3 separate regions of the Homo sapiens genome follow, and regions 1 and 3 are each linked to region 2. Evidence: fine-mapped expression QTL. A gene starts in region 2. Each other region holds a variant in brackets. All regions are shown on one strand. Distances are between the middles of the regions.

Evidence for each region.
Region 1: its variant is fine-mapped to the expression of LIMCH1 in blood mononuclear cells (TOPMed, PIP above 0.99).
Region 3: its variant is fine-mapped to the expression of LIMCH1 in blood mononuclear cells (TOPMed, PIP 0.99).

Annotation. Positions count from the first base shown.
Region 1 is chr4:41,358,521-41,364,112 of GRCh38, forward strand. It overlaps a transcript of LIMCH1 not described here. Among named protein-coding and RNA genes, the nearest start is that of UCHL1, 100 kb to the left of the region's middle. RefSeq lists an enhancer at 4,304-4,965. The variant A/G (reference allele first, on the strand shown) is at 3,192.
Region 2 is chr4:41,535,897-41,541,488 of GRCh38, forward strand. LIMCH1 (LIM and calponin homology domains 1) reads left to right here and starts at 2,261. Exons shown (of 32, transcript NM_001330672.2): 1 at 2,261-2,454.
Region 3 is chr4:41,371,124-41,376,715 of GRCh38, forward strand. It overlaps a transcript of LIMCH1 not described here. Among named protein-coding and RNA genes, the nearest start is that of UCHL1, 120 kb to the left of the region's middle. The variant G/A (reference allele first, on the strand shown) is at 2,777.

The DNA.
Region 1 (5,592 bases), 180 kb before region 2:
TCTGTTTTGGACAGCAGGGTGGAGGTGAGGATCAGTGGTCTGTACTCAGCAACTGCTTGTTTGTCAGGTCCAGCTTTGGTCTGTTTACATTCAGTCCCCTTGTTCGTGCCTTTCACAATGATTCTGCTGGATGACTATATCCACCTCATTTTAGGTGAGGAAACTGAGGGACACACTGTAAGTGGGAGTCTGGACAGGACTGGTAAGACAGCTTGGTGTGCAGTTAGGAGCAAATCTGGCGCCAGGCTGTCTGGGCTTGAATCCAACCCTCCCTGTCCACCAGCTCTGTCCCCTGGTTTCCTCGTAGGGATGATAACAGTCCTATCTTACAGAGCTGGAATAAGGACTGAGTTAGTCAATTATTTGTAATGCACTTAGAACAGTGCCTGGCACAGTATAAGTGCCACGTAAGTGTTTTCAAAGCAAATAAACTAAAGCCTGTCTGACTCCAAAGCTGGTAATGGTGGAATTTGAGGCCTGCTTTTTGTTCCATTCCCCTATTATAGCAGCAGAATTGGACAAAGATTAAACTCGGATTCTGGATGGGGAACAGAGATTTAGAGGCTGAGGCACCCAGGGACCTCCAGCCACCGTCAGAAACCTCTTGTTAGCAGCCATTCTGAAGAGGGGAATCCATTAGCTTGAGGTTAGGCCAAGAATACTGAGCTCCTCCGGACCCAGCGCTGGGCTCACGTAGGTCAGAGCTCCCTGGTGGCCTACCAGGGTATACCCAGGCAACAATCTAAAAGGTAGTGTGTGCCCCCTCACCCGCAGGCGGGACCTGGCCTGCCTCTCCCATGCTATCATTCCCGCCTGGTGCTCTCCACACCAGCTCCAGTCTTGCTGGCCCGCTGTGGGCTCCTCCACGGGGAAGCTCATTCCTACCTTAAGGCCTTGGCATCCATCTGGAATTCTTCCCCCAAATTGTTACACAGTTAAATCTCCCTCACTCATGTCACCTCTTCAGGACATTTCCTTACAGACACCTTCCTTGATCGTCACTTGGGCTGTAGTGCAAAACAGAAGGCATGCTCAAGTGGGAGTGGCCAAGGAGAGTTTAAAGGAAGGGTTAGAAAGAAGTGAGCCGGATCGGGAGACCATTATGGGATGGGGAAGCCTTTACCATACCTAGGCCTGGGAGGTTGAGTGGGACAAGAGGAGATGAGGAACCTTCTGGAAACCCCCTAACCACCTGCAGGAAGGGACGAGATAAATAAATGCACGTCTCTCTTCAGCTCACTGACCATCTGCCTACCTCCCGTTAATGGAACCGCGACTCACAGGTCAGCCTCCCAGCCAAAAGGGGGGAAGGCTATCGGAAATTACCCCGCGCTTTTTCTTTCCATGTCATTATCTTCTCCTCTTTTATCTTAACAACACCCGCCACAATTATCTTCTTTTGATTTACATGTTTATTGTCTGTCCCGGCCCCCAATTCCCTCTACAATGTAGATACCTCGAGGGCAAGGACTTCCAGGTAGGGTGTGTGTGGGTAGGGTGTGTAGGGTGTGTGTGTGTGTGTGTGTGTGTGTGTGTGTTTCCATCTCTGCGTCCCCAGCGCCTGGCCCAGTGCCTGACGCATAGTAGGTGCACAGTGACTGTTGGTTGACTGCATCGACAGACTAGGACACAGGTAGCCTTCCTGGAGAAGAAAAGCTCATCAGGGTCGTTTTTCTTTTTCTTCTTACAAAAAGATCAGGTGGCTGTGTACTTCCCGGCGCCGGGCCAGGGGCTGCCCCGCCTTGCCCCTACCTCTGCGGCCAGGAAGGACTGCAGGTGCTGCGCGGCCAGTGCCCGCGCGTCCTACTGCTCCGGTGCCGCAGCGCCCGCTCCCCCGGGCCCGGGTGCGCCCCACTGGGCGCGCGTCTCCCATATGATGCCAGACCCATCCGCCCGCCCCTCAGCAGCCGGCGGGGCGCAGGGACGTGCGGGGCGGCCAGCGGATTCCCTCTATCGGGCCGGGTGTGAACGGGAGGGAGACACGCAGCGCTCGCTCCGGGTTATTTTTAGTCCGTAGCTGTGCTCCCCCTCCCCGGGGGCGGAGCGGCCCTCGAAGGTGGGGAGGAGAAGAAGCTCCCGGCGCCTCCGCGCTCGCTCCCGCGGGTCACTCACGGCGCGTTGGAGCCCGGGCGGCGCCGGGAACAGCTGCCGCGGCGTCCTCTAGCAGCGCGCGGCTCTCCCGGGACCTGCGCCGGCCGGGGGCGGGGAGAGGCGGGGAGGGGAGGCCGGCGGGCGGGAAGGGGCGGGGAGCGCGCTCCTGCGGCGGCGACGGCGGCGGCCGTCCTCATCCCGGCGCTTGAGAGGACGCGGGGCTGCGCAAATGGCTTGTCCCGCTCTCGGTCTGGAAGCTCTTCAGCCCCTGCAGCCCGAGCCGCCCCCCGAGCCCGCCTTCTCCGAGGCGCAGAAGTGGATTGAGGTAGGTGCGGGTGGCTGGCGGGCGGCCTTGCACTGGCGCCCTGAGCCACGGACCCGCGCACGCTCCGACCGCAGGTCCAGCCTTGCCTCCCCCCAACCGCCCCCACTTTCTTTTGCCAGCTGCTCCAGGTCACCCCCCCGGGCCTCGGCGAGCCGCGAAACCTTAGCGCTTTGGCATTGGAATCCCGGGCGAGGGTGGGCGTGAAAGGGGACACTGCAGTCTAGCTGCGCGCGTGAGGGCAGGAAGGGATCCCCTGCGCGTCCATCCTTCCTGCCCGCTGGCCTCGCAAATCTCAGCTAGCGCCGCTTCCAGGCGCTGCCAAGGGAAGCGCAGTGCTAGCAAAGCGTTGCAAAGGCGCAGGAAGCGCGAGCCCCCAGAGACTTCACCGGTGCTCGCATTTCGGGGTATCTTGCTTCTGGTCCCACATTTCGCCCCTTGTCCCCCTACCCCGCACCCTTCCGGAGCAGAGTTGGCAGTGTCTTCACGGAGGCGCATACCCACCGGAGCCTCTTGCTGTATTCCTGGCACCGGGTCAGGTGTGAGGCTGGCACAGTGCGCAGGGCGGGGGTAGCTTGCAAGACCCACCTGCGAGCACGCATCCGCATAGACGCTGCCCAGCCTTTGGCAACCCCCGCCCCTCTCCATCCCAAGGACTGCAGGGTCGGTTCCGAAGTACGGGCTACCCGGTCTGGTTGGCATATTTCACTTCTTAAATAACTCGTTGGCAGGCCAGGGAAATCACTGGAGCTCTCGGCTCTCAGTCCCGGAAGCGCTC[A/G]CTGGGTGATCCTGATTCACGATGTCTATCAGTAGATGCAGCTTGGTAGCCCCGAGCTCCCGAAATGAACTGTCTGCGGGGTTCAGGACGCTTGAAGGGCATGAAGGGGAAAGGTGACCCCCTATGATTAGTGCAAGGAGCCTCAGCTTCAATGGGTGGCCTTTCTGGAGGCTTAGTGGAAGGTATGAATTTGGCCTTGTTTCCCTCAGTGACAAGCAGCCCTCTTTGCCTGGTAGTTCAGAGGAGGAAGTGTATCGCTAAATCATGACCCAGCAATGTTGAAGCTTCCAGAATTCCGCCTGTCACTTAGTGACTCCCCACTCCGTTCAGCATTGTGGTTCCCAAGAAGCTGCTAGAGTAACAAGAGCTCCACGTACAGATTTAAACCTGCTGAGCTTCCTGCAGAAACCACCCTCACTTAATGCTGCTCTCCTGCTCCAGCCAGAGACCTGTACCCTACAGGGTTAACCTGCTTCCCGCAAGCAAGAGTGCTACTTGAGTATAGAAACATCTGTTTGAAAATAGGGTTCAAGAAACAGAACAATGAACATCAGGGCTGTCTTGCTGAAAGCCCCAGGCATGTCTCATAATTTGATAACTCACCATCAGATGAGAAAAAGACCTTGGCTTTTTATTTTTGATATGTGGCTGGAACGGTTTGGCGTGTGACAGGTGCTCTGCCTGTGTTGCGTACTTATGCTCCCAGGATACACAGGAAGCATTTGTAGTTACTGGCTTATTGCAGAGTTGGATAACTATTTTTCAGGTTCTTGAACTCTAAAATTCTCAGGAGAGACTTCGAGTGTGGGTGGGGGTAAGGGGAGGATCTAGAAGCAGAACAGTCTTTACTATTCTTGAAGGCAAGTGATTTATTCTCAATTTCCTTAACTGTATCATTGACATATTCTGCTTTAAAAATGTATTGTGGTATGAGTTACACATGTAAAAGTGCACAAATCTGAAGTGTACACCTCCATGAATTTTGACATATGTATATTACTATAGCCCCCACCTAAATCAAGATACAAAATGTCTCCTTTGGCCCAGATTACAGTTTGCTTTTAAGTGGTAGTATATTTCAGGCTATTATGCAGTGCAGAATATTAGCTTTAATATCACGTTTAAGAAAAGGAAGAAGGGATTCCTTAAGACAGTAGAACCTCATTAAGCCCTATAGACAGTTTGGGATTGTTCTTGATGCTTTACCATTCATACCAATTTAAGAATGTGAAAACCGTAATGGGGCATGCGTGGCTTTAGGACCAGGCAGCCCAGGCGAGCTGCGTGTGCATTATTGAAGTGGCCTATCTCCTTTCAATTGTTGGGTTCAGTTTCAGGGAAAGGAGAGCTTCCCCCTCCCAGGCTATATAAAAAGGTAATTGCTCCAGGGGAAAGATAGAGACCTCCCCCTTCCTTCCCAGAGGTTCTTCTTGAAATGTAAATGCCGAGTCTGCAAACCACGGGAACCCAGAAGTTGTAACAGATGGTTTTGCATGCAGTTGCCTTGTGAACAAAGATTCCTCAGCTAATACAGCAATAATGTAGTACTTAGGGGCAGTGAATCCCCGGGTGGGGGGGCGGATTGGGGATTGGTATCTCGAGACAATTGCAACTCCTCTAGGGGCCCCATTGTCTCTGGCAGCATCCTCATTGGTAGGGCTTTGTTTTTACTTTTATTCAGTTGGTGATTAAATTTCCCATAGGTTTTTTTTCTTTCTTTCTTCTTTTTGAGTAGTCAGGAATTTCACCCTTTCATAAAAATGTTCCCTTGGGTGGAGCAAGTTAATAAACAAACTTTGCTGCTTGTCTCGCCTCGATTCTTGGTCTTCCTTGAGTCATGGATTGGCAAGAAAACATTCATTCTTAATAAAGGCTCAGGGAACCAGATCCAGGACGTAACTTGTTAGTGAGGAATTTCTCGGCGTGCAGCCTTGGCTATTTGAGGACCGTGTTACTGGGCAGGAAATGTGGCCTGGGAACGATTCCCCCACTTCAGCCCCCTTCCCCTCACTCCTTCCTTAGTTGGCAAAGGTGAAAGCTCTAACGGAGCACTAGATGGTCACAGACCACGTGGGGACAGCCCTTTAACACTCCTAGTGACTTTTTATAGCTGTAGGAACAGGTTGCACATCTAACTGTGTTTGGGAAGACTCCTAGAGGAGACAGCAAACTTGAAGTAGTAACTGTGGCTACCAGCAGGCAGGGGAGTGACTAACTTCTTTCCATACTACTTTTCTAGAAGGCCTTACTAAGCAGAACACAGTAGGTGAGAGGTCAGACCTTGGAGCTGGGCATCCTAGGTTTGAGTCCAGAGTCTGTTACTTTGTAGCTGGATGACCCTGAGCAAGCTACTTTTCCTTTACTGTGGTTCCAAATGATTTCTTTGGAAGATAGCTCTAGT
Region 2 (5,592 bases):
TTCCTGTTCCCGAAAAAACAAAAAATGCCATTCTTTGAAGAAAGAAACCACTTGTTCTCCCTTATCTTTCGTTGAACAGCGTTTAGCAGAATTTGTGACATTACATCAGTTCCTCACTTTTTTCCCTTAGGAATAGACCTTCAATTACAAACTGTGAGCAAAAAATATATAATAGCAGGAAATACATATTTCAGCTGACGTCTGACTCCTTTTTTTCCATAGTTATAGCTTACCTAGAGGATAACTTTCTGTGGAACTAATTCTTAGCATGTATTCCAAACCCAGGTTTATAGGGATTTGGTTGTTTGACAACAGGAAAAAAATACCACCAAATGTATGAAGTATGAGACCATGCTAGGCTGAAACAGCACTTCTCTTAAAACGTGCCTTCCTCTGGATTGTTTTTGTAGGAAGTTTGTCTTGGCAAGCATTTCAAAAGAACTCGCTAGACGCCTCTCTTGTAATTAGCTGGCTTTCTGCTAGAATGTTAGGTCTACCTTCATCTCAAATGGTACAAAAATTAATTCCTCTCTGTCGCTCTGTCCACAGTATAAAATACTAGATTTCTGAGTAGTTTGATATCTAATTTTTCCTTTCTAAAATTTAACTATATTCAGTTTAAGTTTTTGATTTAACTTAAACATAACATTAAAAATAGGATGATTGATATAATGTTATATAGGAATGGTACTTTTCCTCTTTTCCCTCAGTGTTAAAAGAATGGTACTTTTTCCTCACAAAAACCTATATCCCCAGCCATGGAAAGAATATCAGACAAACCTAAATGGAAGGATATTCTACAAAATACCCGACCAGTATTCTTCAAAACTGTCAAGGCCATCAAAAGCAAGGCATATCTGAGAAACAAGGAAAGTCCAGAAAAAGTTAAGGAGACATAATGATTAAATATTATATGGCATTATAGATGGGATCTTAAAACAGAAAGAGCATATTAGGGAAAAACTAATGAAATCCAAATAAAACATGGATTTAGTTAATAGTAGTGTACCAGTGTTTATTTCTTAACTGTGATAAATGTAGATGTACCATAGGAATGTAAGATGTAAGACATGAGTTATACTGAAACTCTGCATATTATCTTTGTAGCTTTCTATAAATCTAAAAACTATTCTAAAATAAAAAGTTCACTTAAAGTAGGATGAATGACAATAAAGATAAAAGAGCATAATGCAAGGAAACTATGAAATAGGTAAGGAAATACAGAAGTTATTAATAAATATTAAATGTCAGCCTACCACTTGATGTATTTGTGTCAATAAATGGCAGGATACCAGTGAGTCCATTGGCATATTAATCCAATAAACTTTTATAAATGATGAATTGGTTGTAAACATTGTGTTTTATAGCATTTGAAAATTCCAAATGGTAACTCCGCACACGATGCTTCTGCTCACATATTTCAGCATCCTGCTTTTAGAATCTGCAGAAAGAAATAGTTCATGTCCTTTAGGGAGGTTTAATAAAAAGCAACAGGTGGAAAATGGATTTTGCAGTAGCATGAACAGCCATAACCATAAATACTAGTACCTCAGAATTATACCAGCAGAGGACTGTAAACACATTAATCTCCCAGCAGTGCAGAAATTCCATTCTCAGATGTCATCTCAATTTCAGGCACAAAGATTGAATGCCTCCATTTAAATTCAAAACACTGAAGGAATATGATGATCCTTTTTTTTCATGGGGATTCATGGAGTGAGTTTGCCAGTTTCCTCATCTATAAGATGGGGTTGATAAATCCCATCTCAGCATTGTGGGATTAAATGAGATGATATACATAAAATACCTAATATGATGGATGGTACACAGGATGTTTTCAATAAATGGTAGTTTACTTTTTATTATGCTCATGAACATTAGGATGGTCTTAGAATCCCAGAACTAGAAGCCACTTAGAGATTTACTTTTTGAAACATTGTTATTTTACAAATAAGGAAACTGAGACCAGAAGGCAGTGACTTGCCTGGAGTCAGGCAGCAACTTTGTTCCAGAGTTGGGACTGGAGTGAGTCTTTGTTCCTCGGGTCCCACTTGGGTGCTTTTTCTAGATCCAGATTTCCTGACAGTACTGCAAACCTACTGTGTGCTAGTGGCTGACACAAAGCTCTCTGCACAATTCCAATCCTGGCATCTCTACTTCTGAAGATGCCATTCCTTTTCCTCAGAGGGAATGGGCTTCTCCGCCTCCCTCTCCAATAGGTGTGGCAATCAGCTGTCTTCCAGTTCCCTTTCACTGCATCAGCATTTCAGCCGCAGCAGCCTGCTTGTGGACAGAGCAGGGGTTGGCAGTGGTGACGACTGTTTTGGGAAAGGAAATGTAAGGGCATTTCGGCTGCTGTGCTGGGGCTGACGAGGAGCACACAGGAGAGATGCCCCTCCCATCTCCCAGAGTGGGTTGGCTGGAGTTCATTGCGGAGCATGAGGACGTGTGGGGGTAAGTAAAATTCATTATAAAAGAAATACATGCTTAGGGGTATCCATGATGGAAAGAAGGAAGCTATTTAGACTTTAATACTTGGTTTAAAAAAAAGTGACTTTTTATTCACTTATTAGTATGGCGAAAATAATATGAAAATTACTTTCCTGTGGATTCATCTTGTCCTTTGATAACTGTTAGCACCTGTTGCTTTTAATTAAGCTTTTTTTTTTTTTTAATTCCCTAAGGAAAGCATTGTTTTTTATTTTCCGGTATGTGGTACAAGACACATAACTCCATTAGTTTAGTCAAAATAAAAAGGATTTTTGAGAATTTTGAGAATGAGAAGCAACTTGGCTGCATTTTTAAGATGTGGTCCAGCAGCACATGGTGTTGTGGGGGAGATGTGGCTGCATTCATGGTGGGGCTGCTTCACCTGAGCCCCTGTCACATTCTGCTCCTGACTCCACAGCCCCCTTTGCTTTTTAAAAACTTCCATTTCTTAAAATGAGGAGGAAAAGAAGCAAGGAAGACATTGGGGAGGCAGGGAGGAGTCTGGAGGGAAGGGCTGCATCTCCAGCCTTGCCCACTTAGTCCTTGTCCTTCATAGTCACTATTTACTGCAGGCCGGGAAAGGAATGGGGGTTATTTCTGGACAATTGTCTCATAAAATCCCGTCAGACCCGTCTGAATGCTAAACGTTCCATGGCACTGGTTATCTAGGGGAAGAAAATTTTCCTTAGCCAAATTTATGAGGCTGGGTTGAAAATCAGGTTGAAACAGAGCCTGGCGAATCCCTATGGCAAAATGATTCATCTTTGTGGAGTCGGGAAATCTATTTTTATCACCTTTATTCAGCCAGCTCCTGATTGTGATTCTCTCACTGAGCTACAGCCGTTTTCTTCATGGTGCTGAATAGACCAAATGTCTCAGGAGTCTGAAACTTCTCTCCTGCCACTCCCAGAGTGGCTGATTCAGCAGTCCCGGGAGAAGGGGTTTGTCCTGTGCTGCGCGGGTGGGTTCCGCACAAGGTGAAGGTCAAATAAAACCGAGAGGCTGCAAGTGTCAGCAGCCAGCCTTTGACTCAGGAATCCTGCCTGAGGGTATGTGCCACTCTGCTCTCCTGCTCTCTCTGTAAGGTGACTAGAAGGTGACTGGGCAGCCATAACTCCTCCAATTTTGAAGACCTTCCCAAGGGAAGAAGGGGCAAGAATAAGCCACCCTCCTTACAGCTGCCAATACATCTCCTCAATCTAATCATCGGGCAGAGAGGGACTTCCTAACACCGTTGTATTCATTTTCCCATTTCCATTTAGTTCTGTAACTATGCATTCCAGGCTGATACATAGTCCTAGCTGGTTCTTGCTGGAGTCCCAACTAATGCTGAGAGGAGTGGCAATTGTTCTCTATAATAAAGTTTAAAGGATAAAGATATGGAAGAAGAACTCACTCTTGAGTTTCCTTTTCTAATGGATTCAGCATGCTTACTCTCTGGGAGCTATAACAAATGGCAATTAGGAAAGCAACAGGAATGTTGACTAGACAGGAACAGTGACCATGGCTGTTGGGGGTATTCCCTGCACCTGGTATATAGTAGACACTCAATAACAATTTGGGAAATGAATGACCAGGATACTGTTCCCCATAGGCTTCAGTTGGCCTTCTTAAGAGCTCTCCTTCAGGACATAGTATGCAGGGCAGCTAGGAGCTGACATTCTAGAGTGAGATGGCCTGAGTTCAAATCCTGGATTTGCAGCTTCTCAGTTGTGTGCTGATCTTTGGCAGGCAACACAATCGTTTGTTTCCTCGTCTGTAAAAATGGACATAATATAGTAACTACCTTATGTGGTTTTCATGAAGAGTAAATTAATTAATATAGGTAAAGAGTCTAGATTTTTTTTTCTTGTCATGTGGTTCAAGATATGAAGAAGAAGAAAAACAGGAGTAGGAAAAGAAGGAGAAAGAGGAGGAGGAGGAACTTTGGCTGTTGGGATAAATTTGGGACCCTTTGAGATTTTGGCCCTGCCTTTTAGGTTGAATATTTCCCTAAAATCATGATTCAGTGATTTTTAAACCTTCTCTTGTCCTGTAGAGAGAATAATTTGAGAATAAAAGAATAAAACGGGCCAGATGCAGTGGCTTACGCCTGTAATCCTAGCACTTTGGGAGGCTGAGGCAGGTGGATCACCTGAGATCAGGCGTTCGAGACCAGCCTGGCCAACGTGGCGAAACTCTATCTCTACTAAAAATACAAAAGTTAGCCGGGTGTGGTGATGGGCACCTGTAATCCCAGCTATTCAGGAGGCTGAGGCAGGAGAATCGCTTGAACCCGGGAGGTGGAGGTTACAGTGAGCTGAGATCGCACCACTGCACTCTAGCCTGAAAAGAAAAAAAAAGAATAATAAAATGGATTTCAGGGGGAAAATGATGACGAATTATTGCCAAGAGTTATTGAACTCCTGCTCCTTGCCAGGTACTAACCATATTCAGTGTTGAAACAAACTGTCAGTCCTTGCCCTGATGGACGCTGCAGTTGACTTTCAAGGGCTGCTGGGCAGTGTGAATTCAATGGCTCAGCGAACACAGCTGCTACGTTCCTTGTTCTCTACCTTTTAAAAAGGAATGTTGAGTAGATCTAGAAGGATGAAGCTTTAAACTTAGCTCCCAACAGGAAATGAGGAGTGAGGAAGTAGGGAGAGATTTGTGTGTGTGTGGAGTAGCAGATGAAGTCTAACTGTACAGCAGTATAAAGGCAGTGAAAGAAATGTAGACGTGGGCATTGGATTGAACCATGAAACTGAAGGGAAATCCAAAGCAGTAATGTATCATCAACCTGTGAAATGTAAAGAAGCACAGGTAAGTAGTGAAAGAATGAAGGAACCAAAGCAGTTGTTGTAATGATATAAAATAAGAGCCATAGCTTATTAGACCCTTAGAGTCCCAAAGCCCAGCCTTGAGAGTGTAGATTCGGGAAGGCTGGATTCCTTTGGCATCCTCTCTTTTCAGCTCTGGGTACTGCCGCAGCAGGTGAGCTTGTGTTTGGTCCCTTTCAGAGTCTGGAGTCTCCCATCTCTTGGAAATACAAGGATATGTATGAGCTACCAACTCCCATCTGGCTTTACTGGTCTGTGAAACATTCTATTTTAATTTGGTGAA
Region 3 (5,592 bases), 160 kb before region 2:
CTTCTAAAAAGATCATGGTCCCAAGTAACTACCTAACCAAGCAGGTGACCTGCCTCTCTCCTTCTCTCTCTTCATTCCCTTAATGGTTCAATATGCTGTTTATTGAGCATCTTCTATATACATAGCACCGTTAGTTGCGAGGAAACAATTTCATCCATATGGCTCCCAAGCACATTCTCTGAAACTGGAACCCTTTCAATATGTTTTAAAAGATAATTGTCAGTAGGGTGGTTAGGACCATGATGAAAAATCATTACAGGAGCCCAATGAACCATCATCAGTGGGTGGAACCATTTTTACTCCCTTTCACTTCACGTCTATTTCCCCAGTCTTTTTCTCCTTGATTGGAACCTGACTCCCCCACTGGATTCAAATAGTCCTTGATGCTGAGATCCAGACTGGAATGATTATAAACAAGGGGAAGGAAAATGTGGATTTAGGGTGCCTCCCTGCCAGGCACCGTTAGTTCTTTGCGTATGGTATTCTGTTTAGTCTTTGTGTAACACAGGTATCTGCTGCCCCCGTCCCAGTTTGAAGTTCTCTACTGTGCCTGTTTCAATAAATTTCACCCATGTTAAGACTGGCAGGCCTGATCCCACGTAGCTCCTGAGTCCCCACATAGTGCCCACATGATAGTTCTTCTTTTGGCCTCATCTGGCACCTCCCAACAGCAGCTCCACTCTTAGACCTCTCATGTGGCACAGGCTCTGGCATTCTGAACAAATATAGTTGGCTATTTTATAATGTCGGTTTCTGTAATGAGGATTATTACATATGCGATTGGGAAATAAGAGAAGCATGCTTGGTAAGGTGCAAGTTGCGATGGTTCATGTGAGATTTTTATTAACACTTGCGTATTTTGTACCACCAAATAGCAGTAGTTGAAAACAAAATAGGATAGTAGAGGTGAACACAACCAGCCAGGGAGGTGAACACCCCTCTTTTTGCTCTAGACTCCATTTGGCTTTGTGTTGATTGAAACGTCTGCTTTTCCCAGATCTTTCTGCATTTTCCTCTCATCTCCATAATGCAGCAGTCTCGGTCTTTCCTCACACCCTTCCACCATGCGCTCTTGCCCCCCACCTTTTTGTGTAATCTTCCGTTTGTTCTGTAATAGGAAATAGAAAACATCTTTTTATGTGTGCTGGTAATTTTTAGTGTTCTTGTTTTTGTTACTGCTCTGGTTACAAAGTTGAGTAGGGTTTGGGCCTTTTACATGAACTCTGTATTTTCCACAAGCCCTGTTATTTTTAGTGTGAGATTTTGTAGGATACAAGGTTTTTGGCTGGCTGTCTTAGTTTGGGACATTATTCATACATTTACAGGAATATGGATACTGTTTTATGGTAGAAATACATAGATATTAATAGTTTGGGCAGATAGTATCTCTCACACACTTACCCACACAGATGCATACATAAAACAATACCTTGAAGATTCCCAGTGCTGGAGCCTGGGATCTTGGGTCATATGGAAAATGTTTTCTTTAGGAATTTCACATTTCCTATCTGCTATCAGAAGACCTTGGACAACATTTCCAGGAGAAGCTTCTGTTGCCTTTGGAGGAGGTAGTTGAATATTGTCTGTGTGTGTGTTTTTCTGATCCATTTTTCTTTGAGATTTTGTGCCTGGGTACTACATAAAGCAGCACTGTTTTCATCCAGGAAACCTACAGGAGTTACTTATTGTGAGTGAGAAGCTTAAGTGAGTTGGAAATGAGGAAACTGAGACTTGAGGGTTGGCAATTTGTCTGAGGGTCAGTGACTTCTTGGCTGCGATTATTCCTGTTCTCTGGAGCCCTTTCTACACCAGTATATGAGTATTGGCAATTTGTCTCCGTTTGGGACATCATTCATTCATTCATCATATAGTTATTGAGCGTGTCCTAGGGACTCAGTAGTATGAGAGACAAATGTGAGATTTCCATTCCACCTGGAAGGATGGACGCTGAGCACAGAATCACGCGTGTGATGCATGCTTGGAAAGGGAAGAGCAAGTTGGTCTGGAACACAAAAAGGGCCGGGATCTCCTTTGGTCTAAGGGGCAATGGGACAGCCTCTCTGAGGAAGTGCTATGTAAGCTGAGACCCCAAGGATGAGCAGGGGTTGGCCATGCAAAAATGAGCAAGAAATCATGTTCTAGGCAAACACTTCAGGCTGTAGTGTTTGCCTTAATGGAAGAGCTGAAGAAGACCAGTAAGGCAGGAGCTTTGGGAGTAGGTATGAGGGAGGTGCAGGATGAAGCTAGAGTGGGCTGCAGGAAAGCTGCATGGTCCTGGCACCGAAGATAGGAATCCTCCGTGCTTCTTGGCCCGGCCTGGGCCATGGCTGGCCTTGTCTGGGAGGACAGCAGTTGGATTTTCTCCAAACTCTCTCAAATTACTATAGTTCCTGACAAAAGAATAGAAACATAGCTAACATTTATGAGAGCTTATGGCCTGGCAAATTCTGTCCTAAGCACCTGACTTTTCAACCATCCTATGAGCTAGCTACAAACTCTTATTACTCCCATTAAACCTAGAAATGAGTGAATGGCTAAGGGTTTTACGGTCATTAGGTGGTAGAGCTGATCTTCAAACTCATGCAGTCTGGCTGCTTTACCTGTGCTCCTAACCACCATGCTATGGGGTGTGATATGGTTTGGATTTATGTCCCTGCCCAAATCTCATGTTGAATTGTAATCCCCAATGTTGGAGGAGGGGCCTGGTGGGAGGTGACTGGATCATGGGGGCAAATTTCCCCCTTGCTGTTCTTGAGATAGTGAGGGAGCTCTCACG[G/A]GATCTGGTTGTTTAAAAGTGTGTAGTACCTCCCCCTGCTCTCTCTTCCTCCTGTTCCTACCATGCAGGACATGCCTACTTCCCCTTCTGCCATGATTGTAAGTTTCCTGAGTCTCCCCAGCCATGCTTCCTGTAGAGCCTGCAGGACTGTAAGCCAATTAAACCTTTTTTCTTTATAAATTACCCAGCCTCAGGTAGTTCTATATAGCAGTGTGAGAACAGACTAATACAGGGTGCAAATGCAGGCTGTTGACCAAGGGTGTCTGTGAGGGATATTGATGAGGGGGAACAGCAGTAAAGAGCTGGGGGCAGGAGGGTAGAGGTAGGGGATGCCTAAGGATGCTGGAGGCCAGTGTTGGCTTTAGACATGTTTTCTGTATTTTAAAAGAAACTCCAAAAATAAGTCCTCTCACCTTGACAGTTTTGCCACCTGGGAAGGAGAGTGATTGTATAGAAAGAGTGCTCCAGGCATCTCCCAAACCCCACATTCTAATGCATGGGGACTCTGGTTCCCAAGCAGCCTGATGAACCCTGGTATTGCTCTGACATGATAGGCCACTCATTTTTAACTTCCATCAAGAGTTGTAAGTAGTATGATATATTTAAAAATGTATTTCTTATTTTATTTTAAACTCTGTGTGTGTGTTTAATAATTTTTTTCATTCAATTTTTTTTTTTGTTTTAGTTAGCATTCTTATGGTTGCAAGCAACAGAAATCCAACCAAAACTGGCTCTAAAAAATAGACAGTTGATTGCTCATTGACGTTCTGGAGGTAGATCCCTACTTCATACAAAGGCTGACTCAGCAGCTCAATGATATCAGTAAGGATCTGGATTCTCTCTCTCTTTCCACCGTGCTGTGCATTGTGTGGCTTTATGCTCTGGCTTTACATAGGGCCTCCACACCTGCCCTACCCCACTTCAGAAGGTCCAGGCTTTTCCACTAAAGGCTGGCTGGGAAAGAGCGACTCCAGTCCTCAAGTTCTCTTTACACCCTCTGGGCAGAGAAAGAGGACACATTCTCATTCATGATCACCAGGGAAATAGATGAGTTGATTAGCCTAAGCCAATCAGACTTCACCCTGGTCCGTCCCTATCAAAGATGCTGGCTGCTACCCAACAGAGAAGCAGTGAATTCCCTAGAGGAAAATCTGGGTACTTTTAGTAGAAGAATGGGTAAAGTGGATGCCAAAGAGGCTACCACCAATTGTTACTAACATTTTATTAAAAATGTGGTAATATACAAGAACACACAGATGATAAGGGAAGGAAGGAAATAATTAAAATGAACTATTCAGAACACTGACTACTTCTTGGAGGTGAGTATAAGATTATAAGCTGGGAGTGGTTAAAAAGAGGCATTAATAGATTGTTTTACTCCTATTTTTATAAGACTAGAACAGTGCTATTTTTAGAGGTATCACTGAATGTCAAGTGCCCAACCCATACCTAATGGGTTCTATTAGGTGTAAAAATGTGATTGAATGAACTGGATTGATTTTTAAACTGTTGATTAAAAAAATAAAGATGTTCATCCTGGGTACTTCAACTCTCCTTTCTTCCCAATATATATAAACCTTTACACTGAATTACTGTAACTTTAAAAAAATGTTATAAATTAAAGTATCCAATACCAGTATCTGATTTTTTTCCCATTTAATTTCATATTTCTCAGGTAAAGATATCTATTTTTTGGAGCCTGAAGCCTAGAAATAGCAAAACCATGCAGTTGCTGTTCACCGGACACTCCGGGTCCAGGGGGTGTGCAGCTCTGTGCCTGAGCAGTCCCCAGGCATGTGGGGCTTTTCTAAAAGTGGATACAGCGGCTGTCGCCCACTGATCCTCTGTGCTGAGTGACCCAGATTGGCACAGCGCAGCTGGGTCCTACCCAGGGCGAGTACGGGAAAGAGGAGTAAAAATAAAAACTGGTTGGGCAGCTTAGGTGGAGTCAGGATACTTGAAAGCTCACAGGTTACTTTGCTAATTCTTGGGCAGATTTTTCCTTTTTTCTTTTTTGAGGGGATAGTGATGATTCCAATGACAGTTTTCTAGATTTCTTGGATTTGACAAAATAGTTTCATACAGAACAGCAAAATGAAGTATGTAGAAAATATGTTTTTTGAGATTAGAACATTTGCCCTTGACATGAGTTTCTTATTTATCCTATTCAACATTCAAGTCTCCAATAAAGTTTTCCCCAAAGGTATCTCTTTTATGGAGTTACTTTCTGAATGAAGACATTTCTGTCTTTTTTGTTAATAGAACGAAATGTACTTGCCATTATAGTTTCTATATAGTTTTCTATGTTATCTAAGAAAAATGAGTAAGAGTGTTTAGGTATGGTGTCAAGTTACCCACCCAGAATAGTTGTTCAATCTCTGCCACTGTTTGGCATTTTGACATTTGTGTTTTTAAAGTGTAGTAGATTTGCTAATTTTTGAAGCTTTGGTCCTTACTATTAGAAATTTTGAGGTTTTATTTTTGGTGTTTGACCAAGGGATTTTTTTAAAATGCAAAAGCAGATTTTATGTAATGTTTTCCTCAGTTATGGATAGCTTTGATAAACTATATGAAATTTTTTCCCTCCTGAATGCTTTGTGGCTTTTACTGTAATAATCTTTCTGTGATCTGTAGACCAATAATTAAATCTCCAAATGGCCTTTACCTTGCAATAGCAATTGAAAATAATATTAAATATTTATACTTAAAATATATGGGAAATGTGGATATAACTTCTTTTAAAGATAAAATGTCCTTAAAATACCCTAGTAGTAGGAATACCCTAGGGTAAGACATATTTCTGGGAAAAAGAATTT